2 separate regions of the Homo sapiens genome follow, and region 1 is linked to region 2. The links come from fine-mapping of genetic effects on gene expression. Tissue or cell type: unexposed skin. Region 2 holds a variant in brackets; the other region holds the start of a gene. All regions are shown on one strand. Distances are from middle to middle.

The links. PIP is the estimated chance that this variant, and not a neighbour inherited with it, causes the effect. A credible set is the group of variants that fine-mapping cannot tell apart.
Region 1: it holds the start of OSTN, and the variant in region 2 is the best candidate, but not a certain one, in a credible set for the expression of OSTN in unexposed skin (GTEx, PIP 0.68).

Annotation. Positions count from the first base shown.
Region 1 is chr3:191,197,981-191,200,671 of GRCh38, reverse strand. OSTN (osteocrin) reads right to left here and starts at 1,431. Exons shown (of 5, transcript NM_198184.2): 1 at 1,365-1,431.
Region 2 is chr3:190,979,236-190,981,926 of GRCh38, reverse strand. No RefSeq gene overlaps it. Among named protein-coding and RNA genes, the nearest start is that of SNAR-I, 100 kb to the right of the region's middle. The variant G/A (reference allele first, on the strand shown) is at 1,459.

The DNA.
Region 1 (2,691 bases), 220 kb before region 2:
CACTTCTATTTTTTTTTGTCCTTTTCACAAGGACAAAATACAATATTATCAAGCCTTAATTCGTGCTTAAGGCTTGCCTGCAGTTGTATAGGTGGATTATAGCAGAGCTAGAATGATATATTAGGATTTCTTACTTCGAGTTCTTTATTTTTGAGACAAGTTCAATTAATCTAATTTTATTAATCAAATGTTCAAATCATTGAGAGTATTTGTAAAAGAAGTTAAAATTATAGCCCTGAGGTTCCCGTGCCCAGTCAACTGAAGATATCTGCTTCTCTACTGCTCATTATTCAGTATATAAGAATCAGTTAAAAATCCTGAGAAATAAGGGGGAGAAAGCAAATGTCAACCTTAAACACTCTGAATAATTTTTGAATGAAGCCATAGTAAAATTCACTGACATGAAGGAGACCTGAACTGTTATCTACAGAAAGTGCTCCTTAGAAAAGTTCTGTAAGCGTGCTGAAGAGTAGTACCAAAGTAAGAGAAAACACAGAATGTCCCTGGTGTTTTTGGTATAACACTATCAATTCTATAACTTATATAGGCATTAAAATTACCATAATTCATTCTCAAAAATGTTAAATTTTTAGAAGGAAAACTCATAAACAAATAATAATCACATTCCTAAACCTATAGAGTCTGTTATTCAAAGAAACAACATTTGAATTGTTAGAACTGAATTCACTGAGTGCACACTAAACCTGAAATAAAATTTTAAATTTCTTCTCCAACAGAGCTCAAATGTATGTTTCAGATTAACTCTCAATTCAATCATTGAATAGCAAGAGCACTACAAATACTGAAGAACAGGCATACTCTAAGTCTACTCCAACTATGTTATTAATATCATATTTGCATATTTGACATATAAGGAGAAAAACAGAAGATGCATTAGGTTTTAAGAACATAAGAGATAGAATTTCATTAGTTTAGGGATGTTTCTTAAGCTCCAGTTTTGATAGAAATAATGAGGAAAAAACCTTTCTTTTTTACCTAGGTTGTTTAGACCACTCTTTTATATTAAACATTTTTCTAATATTACACAATTTTGAGGAAAGCAAAATAACGCTAATAACATATATATGTATAGAATTATTATTTTGCATTCACTTTCTGTTTGTTTTGAAATGGAAGAGAAAAGCAATCTTATAAATATGAAATATCTGAATAAGCAATTAGTTCTACCTTAAGTTTGCATTACAAAAATATCTTTGATTTTCTACTCATTTTAGAGAGGGAAATATTACCACTCTAATTTTAACAAAATCAAGATATAATCAAAACATTTAAAGAGTCTGTGAAAGTAAAAATAATAGTTAAAAGAAGCATTAAATCTTTATCAATTTTTACATATAACTTACCTCGTGAAAGATCAGGAGATTCTAACTTTAGAGTACTGTCTCTGCAGTTTCTCCAAAACTCAGCCCTGGTGGTGAGTTTTCTCTCTGAGTTTTTATAGTCTCAGTTATACACCCCTTACTCCAATCCCTGCCTTTGCTTTCTCTTACATCATTTCTACAGATTTTCCACTGAACATTTTCCCAAGCCTCTCTTCGATCTCTTTCTCTCCCTCCCTCTCCCTTCCTTCTTCAGTTTCTCCCTCCCTCCTTTCCCTCCATATTTAGTCTATCTATTGCTTTGATCATGGCATTTAAATAACGATGGAAGTATAGGCTCTGGAAAATTTGAATATAGATTTAGTATTGTGTTCAGCTTCACACCCATCACCTCTTCCTGAGGTTTTAGTCAAGCTCTGATTATTACAAATCATATTTGGGAAATAAAATGCACTAAGATTTGTTAAAAAGTCACCAGGGAATTTCAATGTACGATATAGAGAGATTGTAATCAGACACAAACGGATTTATTGGTGTAATTTTTGGACCTTTAAATGATCAGCTATGGAAATAATGAGTACTTTCAGCCTCCGTCAGGTGCACAGTGCTGTGTCAGTGAAACACAATGACAGCTACTTCGTAATTAACATTGCTATACTGGGAAGGCTGTCACTAACAAACCTATAAATACTGAGCTGTGACATGTGAGCTATAAATGAAGACGTTGTAATCATTTTTGTCTTGCTCTTGTTCTTCAGTACTTTGATTTCTTTTTAACCAAAATATTTCTGCCTTTGGCTGAAGGTTTTCTTTCATTCTTATCTCCTACTAATTATATTTGCATCCTTACATACACAAATTATTTTTTAAATGAATTATTAAGTTATAAAGGTAACATGTTATGTTATTAGATCGTTAATGGCTCATTTGATTCACCAGAGGGTCCCCATCTGACAGGTAAAGAGGCCAAGGCTCAGATAAATTAAGTGACTTTATGAGATCACACACGTAAGAAGTAGTCGCAGAGCTGGATTTCAAATGCAGATCTTCCTAATTCCATATCCAGTTCTTTTCCCACGACTGCATTCTATCTCACTGCTTTAAAAGCTAGAAAAGAGAATCCAAACCAGATTATATTTTTGCACAAAAAGCAATAAATTTATTCTTTTTGGTTTCCCTAAAAAGGCCATTTAAAATACTAGTCACTAGTATAAGGACAATTACATGGTTAATTTGGATCTAGATGGGGAAACTGACCAGAGCACACAGAATTAGTGGGACAGTAAAATGCTTCATTTTTATGATGGGTTTCCAGGGATAACATATGTCTCAACAAGCTTGAAATTTGAGT
Region 2 (2,691 bases):
GGTGATAATTTAATTCCAGGTCTAAGCTGGACATGGTGGCATGTGCCTGTTATCCCAGCACTTTGGGATGCCAAGACAGGAGGATCACTTGAGGCCAAGAGTTCAAAATCAACCTGGGCATCATATCAAGGCACTGTTTCTACAAAAAATTAAAAAAAATAGACAGGCACAGTGATGCACACCTGCAGTCCTAGCCAGTCAGGAGGCTGAGGGAAGAGGATCACTTATGCTCAGGAGTTCAAGGTTAGAGCGAGCTATGGTTGCAACACTGCACTCTAGTCTGAGTGACAGATTCTGTCACTAAAAATAAAAAAATTAATAAACAAATCCCAGCCTAGTGGGATGAAGATGCGGTTTTTTTCCCTTTTATTTACTTACTGATTATGTTTATTACAACTCTATTTATAATTGTACCAAAAGAAGAAAAAACAAACATTTGCAACACAAGAAAAATGATTAAATGTTTATTGTACATTCCTATAAAATTTATTATTATTATTATTATTATTAGTAGTAGTAGTAGTAGTATTTTGCTTTTGGGGTGGTTACCAGAGGCTGAAAAGGGTAGTACGCAGGGAAGAAAAAGGGATAGTTAATGGGTATGAAAATATGGATAGACAGATAGAATGAATAGGATCTAGTATTTGACAGTACAACAGAGTGACTACAGTCAACAATAATTTATTGTACATTGAAAAATAACTAAAAGAACATACTTGGATTGTCTGTAGCATAAAGTATAAATGCCTGAGATGATGGATACCTCATTTACCCTGATGTGCTAATTATTCATTGCATGCCTGTATCAAAATACCTCATGTACTCCATAAGCGTCTGTTCTCATGCTACTATGAAGAAGTATTTGAGACTGGGTAATTTATTTTAAAAAGAGGTTTAATTGACTCACAGCTCCACATGGCTGAGGAGGCCTCAGGAAACTTACAATCATGGTAGAAGACAACTCTTCACAAGGTGGCAGGAGAGAGAATGAGTGCCAAGTGATGGAGAGCCCCTTATAAAACCATAATATCTCATGAGAAGTTACTATCAGGAGGACAGCATGAAGGAAACCACCCCCACGATTCAATTATCTCCACCTGGTCTCACCATTAACATGTAAGAATTACTACAATTCAAGGTGAGATTTGGGTGAGCACACAGAGCAAAACCATATCATTCCACCCTTGGCCCCTCCCAAATCTCATATTCTCACATTTCAAAACACAATCATGCCTTCCAAACAGTCCCCCATAGTCTTAACTTATTCCAGAATTTGCCCAAAAGTCCAAGTTCAAAGTCTCAGATGAGACAAGACAAGTTCCTTCTGCCTATGAGCCTGTAAAATCAAAAGAAAGTTAGTTACTTCCTAGATACAATGAGGGTATAGGCATTGGTTAAATACACCCATTCTGAATGGGAGAAATTGGCCAAGACAAAAGGGCTACAGGCCCCATGCAA[G/A]TCCAAAAATCTAACTGGGGAGTCATTAAACCTTAAAGTTCCAAAATGATCCCCTTTGACTCCATGCCTCACACCCAGGTCACATTGATGCAAGAGGTGGGCTCCCACAACCTCAGGCAGCTCCACTCCTGTGGCTTTGAAGGGTACAGTCCCCCTGTCAGCTGCTTTCATGGGCTGACATTGAGTGCCTGTGACTCTTCCAGGCACACTGTGCAAGCTGTTGATGGATCTACCATTCTGGAGTCTGGAGGATGGTGGCTCTCTCCTCACAGCTCTACTAGGCAGTGGCCCAGTAGGGACTCTGTGTGGGGGCTCCAACACCACATTTCCCTTCTGCAATGCCCCAGCAGGAGTTCTCCATGAGGGCTCTGTCCCTGCAGCAAACCTCTGCCTGGATATCCAGGCATTTCTATACATCCTCTGAAATCTGGGCAGAGGTTCCCAAACCTCAATTCTTGTCTTCTGTGTACCCACAGGCACAGCACCACGTGGAAGCTGCCAAGCAAGGGGGCTTGCACCCTCTGAAGTAATGGTCTGAGCTGTACATTGACCCCTTTTAGCCATGGCTGGAGCTGAAGCAGCTGGGATACTGGGCCCTATGTCCCGAGGCAGCATAGAGTAAGGGGGACCCTGGGACAGGCTCACAAAACCATTTTTTCCCTCCTAGGTCTCTGGACCTGTGATGGGAGAGGCTGCTGTGAAGTTCTCTGATATGTCCTGGAGACATTTTCCCCATTGTCTTGGTGACTAACATTCAGCGTCTTGTTACTTATGCAAAATTCTGCAGAGGGCTTGAATTTCTCCTTAGAAAATAGGTTTTTCTTTTCTATCACATGGTCAGGCTGCAAATTTTCCAAACATTTATGCTCTGCTTCCTATTGAACACTTTGCCACTTAGAAATTTCTTCCACCAGATATCCTAAATCATCTTTCCCAAGTTCAAAATTCCACACATCTCTAGGGCACAGGCAATGTGCCACCAGTCTCTTTGCTAATGCATAGCAAGAGTCACCATTGCTTTAGTTCTTAAGAAGTTTCTCATCTCTATCTGAGACCACCTTGGTGTTGACTTCATTCTCCATATCACTAGCAGCATTTTGGTCAAAGCCATTCAACAAATCTCTAGAAAGTTCCAAAGTTTTCCACATCTTCCTGTCTTCTTCTGAGGCCTCCAAAGTGTTCCAACCTCTGCCTGTTCCAAAGTTGCTTCCACATTTTCAGATATCTTTATGG